2 linked regions of the Homo sapiens genome follow. The protein of the gene in region 1 purifies or fractionates together with the protein of each later gene. This does not show direct contact. Each region holds a gene or a part of one and is shown in the gene's direction. Other genes may lie near its edges. The genes, in order: URGCP and PPIP5K2.

Region 1 (3,826 bases):
CCTAGAGCAAATCTGTGTCTTGTGTGTAGCTATTACTACCTTGTGATGTATTTTTTGCTGGCAAAACATTACATTTACATAGGAAAAACTGAAACCAATAATAGCACTAAAACATCAGCCACCATATTGTCACTTGACGTTTTTTGTTGTTGTTTGGTGTTTTTTTTTTTTGAGACAGGGTCTTGCTCTGATGCCCACGCTGGAATGCAGTGGTGCAATCACAGCTCACTGCAGCCTTGACCTCCCAGGCTCAAGTAATCCTCCTGCCTCAGCTGGGACCACAGGCTCGTGGCATCATGCCCAGCTAATTTTTGTTTGTTCGTTTGTTTTTGAGATAGCCTCACTCTGTCGCCCAGGCTGGAGTGCAGTGGCATGATCTCAGCTCACTGCAACCCCCGCCTCCTGGGTTCAAGCAATTATTTTGTCTCAGCCTCCCAAGTAATTCCAAGCTGGAATTACAGGCATGCGCCACCACGCCCAGCTAATTTTTGTATTTTTAGTAGAGATGGTTTTTCGCCATGTTGGCCAGGCTGGCTGGTCTCAAATTCCTGACCTCAAGTGATTTTCCTGCCTTGGGCTCCCAAAGTGCTGAGATTACAGGCATGAGCCACCATGCCTGGCCTAATTTTTTAAAAAAAGTCTTTGTAGACACAGGGTCTTGCTTTGTTGCCCAGGCTGGTCTCAAACTCCTGGACTCAAGCACTCCTCTTGTTCAGCCTCCTAAAGTGCTGGGGTTACAGGCATGAGCACTTGAAATTTTTGACAGAAAGGTTCTAACTTGCTGATGAAACTAAATGTATTTGGTTTCTTTTTTCTTCTAGATTTGGAATGGAGAGAAATGGAAGGAGATGATTGCGAGTTCCGTTATGGAGGTAGAAACTACAGGATTTGGCAACAGATTGGACTGGGGAGAGGGGGAGTGGGTAAAGTGACAGATAACCGGGATTTTATATTTAGAACAATTGGGAGAAGTTGCCATCTTGGTGAGAAAGAAGGGTTCTAGGTTTAGCTTCAATTAATTTGTGTCAGCCAAGGGTGCATTATTTGATTGACACTTCATTTTCCATTGCTTTTTCCATAGATGGTACAAATGAGGCTCAGGACAATGATTTTCCAACAGGTAAGCATTTTCTCTGCCTTTTCTCTCTGTTCTATGAAAGGGGGTTATCATCTAGGCCAGCAGTTCCCACACCTGACTGTATCAAATCACCTGGGGAGGCAGAGCACTCAGGTTTAGGATGCCCTACTTCATTAACCCTTTATACATTGTTAACCATATTGCTAAAAAAAAAAAAAAAAAAAAACCCTGGGAAGCTTGCTAACCACATAGAGTAACCAGGCCCCCCCTCCACCACCCAACATACTCACTGCCTTTAATAAGTTAGCATGTTTGGAGGTGAAACCCAGAGATGTTTCATTTTTTAACAAGTTCCTGAAGTGATTGATTCTAATGTACAGCCCGGTTTGGAAACGATTTATCTGGTCCAACGCCTTCATTTGCAGATCAGGATACTGGGCCCAGAGCTTCCAAACAACCTGCCAAGGGCCACACACTGGGCAGAAGTGTTTTCTTTGTCTTTTTCCCATTGCCTTTTACTACCATGCTACTTAAAAAATAAAAAGTTATTCCATGTCTGGACAAGAAAAACAATGTTCCTAGTTTCATTCAGGCAAAGCTAGGAAACCTGAGTAACACCTGTTTTGGCACAATGTGACTCTTCCCATATAGTACTTTTGTTTTTGTAACAAGTTCATAGGTCCCCTAATGTTCTGTGGGGCAGTCCTGTGGCCACAATGCCTGTGGAACTCTCTGAGCAGAGTGTCCAGCACTGTGAGTCCTGCTGGTCGTATGGAAAGTGGTCTTGAATCCATCACTTGACCTTCTTGGGAAACAGGCAGAGGGCTGGGTCACCCAGTGTTTCCTTTCATGGTTTATCTAAGCATCAAAGCAGTATCATACACGTTGCTTCCTCTCTCGAGAAAGGAACTGGAAAAAAGGCTGCAGGGCAGTGGAATTTGTATTTACTTCATGCATTAACATTTAAAGTGACTCAGCACGGTGCCTCACATCCAGCACTTTGGGAGGCTGAGGCAGGCAGATCATTTGAGCCAGAGAGTTCAAGACCAGCCTGAGCAATATGGCAAAATCCCGTCTCTACAAAACATACAAAAACTAGCCAAGTGTCTTGTGCACCTGTAGTCCCAGCTCCTCAGAAGCTGAGATGAGTGGATCTCTTGAGCCTAGGAGATCAAGGCTGCAATAAGCTGTGATCACACCACTGCCTTCCAGCCTGGGTGACAGAGTGAGACACTGCCTCAAACAACAACAAATTTTAAGACAACTAATTAATATGCAGCATGAACATTAGTAAGGTGCTGGGCCAAGACCTGGATGGTGAATGGAATCTTCAGAGGTAGCAATACTGTTTCAAGCATCTAGCTTATAAGATCTTATATTGTATAGGGTGATATTTGAGTATCTGCGCAAGTAAGTGCTCACTTACTAACAGTCTGCACTGAATATTTTAATACATTTAAAATTTAAAACTGCATTAAAGCCAGGCACCATGGCTCACACCTGTAATCCCAGCACTTTGAGAGGGCTAGACAGGTGGATTGCTTGAGTCTGGGTTCGAGACCAGCCTGGGCAACATGGCAAAAACCCATCTCTACAAAAAAATACAAGGATGAGCTGGGTGTGGTGGCACACACCAGTAGTTCCAGCTACTTGGGAGGCAGAGGTGGGAGGATCTCTTGAGCCCAGGAGGTTGAGGCTACAGTGAACTGAAATCATGCCACTGCACTACAGCCTGGGTAACAGAGTAAGACCCTGTCTAAAAAAAAAAGAAAGGGGAGAGGAAAAAAGAAAGAAAAAAAAGAAAACCTGCATTATTGATTTCAGGTTTGCAAAATGGTTGTTTAGCTATAATTGCTGACTCTTTATGCTTAGTGATTTCTTTCTAGTTCCTTTAAAATATTCTCTTATTTCTAGAGAGAAAAAAAACACAAAAAAACATTAACTAGAAAGCCAGAGAGTGATTCAGTGATTATGACTCCTGTGGGAACTTCCCGGTGACTCTGAGTAGCCCACGGAAGCAACACAGTGGGGAGGTGAGGCCTGCATTCAGCTTGTAGGAGTCATGTGCTGCTCACTGTAGCCAATTAATTTTGAGCTCAGTGTTAGATCTTACAGGTTTCTAGAAAGACCAGAAATATGGCTTTTGCAAGAACTCTTCCAGTTGTTAAATGTAGCTTATTTATTTCTGTTCTTTCTTTTGTTTAATGTCACATATATCTGTGGTTAGGTTGGTACCTATTGTACCTTGATGTCCGGGTTCCAGCCCTGCCTTGATCTCAGGTCAGCCTTGAGCACACCCTGAGCCTCCTGTGCCTGCACTCTGCTCTCTGAAGGGGGTCGTCACTCTCCCCATCCTGCTGGGCTCTCCTTCACCAGCTCTTCCCTGGCCCCTAGCTCAGAAACACAGGGTGAGCACTTATGTCTTCATTTCTTTCCACAGTGGAGAGAAGCAGGCTTCAAGAAATGCTGTCACTTTTGGGCCTAGAGACGTACCAGGTCCAGAAACTCAGCCTCCAGGACTCTCTGCAGATCAGTTTTGACAGTATGAAGAACTGGGCCCCTCAGGTTCCCAAAGACTTGCCCTGGAATTTCCTCAGGAAGTTGCAGGCCCTCAATGCTGATGCCAGGAATACCACTATGGTGCTGGACGTGCTCCCAGACGCCAGGCCTGTGGAGAAGGAGAGCCAGATGGAAGAGGAGATCATCTACTGGGACCCAGCTGATGACCTTGCTGCCGACATTTATTCC
Region 2 (3,826 bases), on another chromosome or scaffold:
TGATTTGTTACGGGCCAATGGACAGTCCTATGTCTGTGATGTCAATGGCTTCAGTTTTGTGAAAAATTCCATGAAGTATTATGATGACTGTGCAAAAATACTTGGGTAAGAATTTTTAAATTTTTCTTTTTACCTTCATATACTAGTTATTCAGAAACCAAATAACTGTTAACATTAAATGATCAGGGTTTTTAAGCATTCTAGAGTAAAGATCAGTGTTCATAAAATGATACCCCCAGAGACTATGCCAGATCCTGAATTATACTTTGGCTTATCAAAGACAGATTAATTTATGATCAGTATAGATGAAAACCTTTAACTTCATATGTTTACAAATACTATAACATGCTGATTATTAGTCAAAAGTTTATTTGTTAGAATACTTTATTCCTCAAATTTTTGCCATGTAGTTATAGTGGAAAAGGTTTTCTTCTACTTAATGGACAAAATTAACATTCATGAAATAAACAGAGTAAAATAGAAATATTTAGAATTCATGACTCTTTTGCATGACAATTCATTCTACAAGCATATGTTACTTGATGATATTTTCATAAGATTATCAAGTGAATGTAAAAAAATTATTGTAGGTAGAAATGCCATTTTTATATTCTTCAACCTGTTTTCTTTATACCTTGATTCAGAAGACTAGCAAGGCAATAACTATTTTTAAGACATTTCCAGGTATATATGACAAATCCATAGGAAACTTACATTAAAAAATGTTCGATAATTGGAGCTAGCTTTTATACTGGTTAAGTATCCCTTATCCAAAATGCATGGGACCAGAAGTGTTTTGGATTTCAGATTTTCAGATTAAGAACATTTAACCCACAGTATGTTTCAAAGATTTACAAACTTACCCTTAAAGTGATGTAAGGGAGAGTTTACTAAATTTTAGCATAAATAAATGCTAAATTTAAACAAAGCCAAAAAGTAAACATTTTTCCATTTTTAACCCTATTAGTATAGTAGTGATTTGTTAAGATGAACACAATATTTAGAGTAGCATTATAGATGTTCAATAAAGTGATAAGAATTTATCAGTAGCCACACAGAAGAGACAATCTTGAATTTCAGAATGTATGTAGTTAGATGTGATGTAATTGTAGTGATTTCTTTGAATCCAATGTTGATTGATATTTTAAAACTAAAGTAAATAATCTCAAATTTGTGAAATCCCATTGATGTGTCTAATACATCAATTTGGAACTGCTGATTTTTATTTTTTCTTGATCAGAATGGATTCTGTGGGTTATCTTTTATGTGATGTAATCACTAGATAGTTTAACTCTTATGATTCTCTCTCATCCTCATTAAGTACCCAGTTTTGTCTTAAAACGTACTAATTTTAAATCTTTTCTTTTTTGTCTTGAAGAAATATTGTAATGCGAGAACTTGCTCCACAATTTCATATTCCATGGTCAATACCCTTAGAAGCTGAAGATATCCCAATTGTACCAACTACATCTGGAACTATGTAAGTCTGAATTATTTTCATTTAGAAATTGAGTTTTCCTTGCCATCTGTGCTATTAGGATAAAAATTAAATTTCTGAATGATGATTAGACACTTTAGTGTGTATGATTTCATATGATTCAGCTTGAAGATAGAGGAGTAGATTATACGTATTTATAAGGGTCCACTAATTGTTACAAATAAACTACTGAAACATGCCTGGATAATTATAGAATTGTTTAATCAAGCCATAAAAATAAAAAAGGTACCAATAGGAATGTTACTTAAAGGTTCATAGTGGTCTTACAACTTTTGCTCTCTCAAGTCATATCTTGCATAATTATACCAGTATTGCCAAAATGTTTTATAACATTCTCTTACTGAAAATTATTCCTTTAAATTCATGTCAGTTGACTGAATGCTTTTTTTTCACAACTTAGATATTTATATTAACATGTTAAATATCCTGAGATGTACTGATGATGGGGGGAACTAATTTTGTTTTTAATCAGCATTTTTCATACTGATTTAACACGCAAGTGTTAAATAAAATTTTTTTCAGGTAACTCAATTGATAATCCTGCAGGGTTATGTTCTGCAGTTCACACTTCAGCACACACTAGATTATACCTCTGAATTCTAGCATGCTTCTAAGATGATTTTATCTTCCAGTAATTTGAGTTGTAAATACTTGTTCTCCTTACATGGGCAAAACTTAGCAAATATATAAATATAGCAACCATCATGTAAAGTTTTATTTTGATTTAATGAAGTCTCAGTCTGTAGTGACCTAATGCTATGGATCAGATATATAAGAAAGCTCAGAAATTGTAGTCCATCTACTTTTATCCCAGAGTTAATGTAGCCATTTCTAGAGAAGAAAAGGTTGTATTCTACTATATAGCTTAATATCACCTCCCTCCCCCAGCTTCTTAAGTTCTTTTTGAATTTTATTTCATAAAGTTAAAACTAGATTGTTATAAGTATTATTCTTCATGGGAAAGATCTTGAAGTGGTAAAAGATGGCTTTAAATAGATGACTAAATGTTCATATTAATCTGAATTATACAACACAAATCTTTTTTAGAGAATTAAGAACATATATATTTTTTCATTTTAGGATGGAACTTAGATGTGTCATAGCTGTTATACGTCATGGGGATCGAACACCAAAACAAAAAATGAAAATGGAAGTGAGACATCAGAAGTATGTTTTCAGATGAATAATTTAACATGCATGATACAATTTTAAGATTTCTGATAAGTGATCAACTCTTTTGATTAATACATCATATAGAAAAACTTTTATCTACTGTCTCTTGGCCATTTATATTTAAACCAGTGGGTGGGTACAAAATCCATTTAAAATATGTTCATTAGCATCTAAAATTATTGTGGCAATATTCATAAATATCATCAGTCTGCCCTGGCTTTCATTTATTGTCATAAAGGTGTTCTATTTAATCTTTGCTTATCACTCTCTTGTATTGCATTCTGAGAGTGAGTAATCCCTCAGCCTTTTAGAAGAAAATTAGTAGAATGAAAGTTTCTGTTATTTCTATCCAGTGTTTGGTTTGGAGATGATAAAATTTGAAAACCCTGAGCCATTAAGTATGTGTTGACACAAGTAATTTTCAATGTATATGCAATGACTTCAGAAAATATATAATATTATGAACTATAATTGTATGTTTGGTTTCCGTGAAAAAACTTTGAAAAGTAGTATGGTGATTATTAGTTTGGTATCATTTAGGAAAGTACTAAGTTTTATCAATCAAAGTTGAGCAGCAACATGTACAGTGAAAGAGGAAACACAGTACTTGAAATCCTTAGATCCCAAGTTCTAGTCCCATAGCTTATCATTTATTATTTGTTAGTTTAAACATATATTGGTAATGTTAATTATTGCAAGTGACTAACAGTGTTCTGTCTTTTTTATAAGATTTTTTGATCTTTTTGAAAAGTGTGATGGATATAAATCAGGGAAATTAAAACTCAAAAAACCAAAACAGTTACAGGCAAGTGTATTTGCTTTCTTGTTTAATTTTAAATTTTTTAGTGGTGAAATTACATAAAAATTCAATTTTTTATTAATTTATTTTATAGGAAGTGCTAGATATTGCACGACAGCTTCTTATGGAGCTAGGGCAAAATAATGATTCTGAAATTGAAGAAAACAAGCCAAAACTTGAACAACTTAAGACTGTATTAGAGATGTGAGTATCTTTTTGAAACGCTTAATTGTGGTACTACATATAGCTCTTCTTTTTTATGTATGTGATTTTCCATTTTAATTACTTTCACAGTCTGATCTTTTTACTCTTTGTTACTATAGTTGAGACATGAAGGAAAATCTAATGTGAAAAAA

Evidence for each region.
Region 2: the proteins of URGCP (region 1) and PPIP5K2 purify together in Homo sapiens (affinity purification with mass spectrometry, with the first as the bait; one large-scale study listed by BioGRID). This does not show direct contact.

The regions. Positions count from the first base shown.
Region 1 is NC_000007.14:43,878,953-43,882,778, reverse strand, and holds part of URGCP (up-regulator of cell proliferation), read left to right. Parts: intron 1-821; coding exon 822-872; intron 873-1,081; coding exon 1,082-1,120; intron 1,121-3,518; coding exon 3,519-3,826. Other genes in the region: URGCP-MRPS24 (uncharacterized protein LOC100534592), read left to right, coding at 822-872, 1,082-1,120. UniProt on the Homo sapiens protein: May be involved in cell cycle progression through the regulation of cyclin D1 expression. May participate in the development of hepatocellular carcinoma (HCC) by promoting hepatocellular growth and survival.
Region 2 is NC_000005.10:103,151,270-103,155,095, forward strand, and holds part of PPIP5K2 (inositol hexakisphosphate and diphosphoinositol-pentakisphosphate kinase 2), read left to right. Parts: coding exon 1-105; intron 106-1,378; coding exon 1,379-1,480; intron 1,481-2,578; coding exon 2,579-2,665; intron 2,666-3,400; coding exon 3,401-3,476; intron 3,477-3,564; coding exon 3,565-3,674; intron 3,675-3,826. UniProt on the Homo sapiens protein: Bifunctional inositol kinase that acts in concert with the IP6K kinases IP6K1, IP6K2 and IP6K3 to synthesize the diphosphate group-containing inositol pyrophosphates diphosphoinositol pentakisphosphate, PP-InsP5, and bis-diphosphoinositol tetrakisphosphate, (PP)2-InsP4.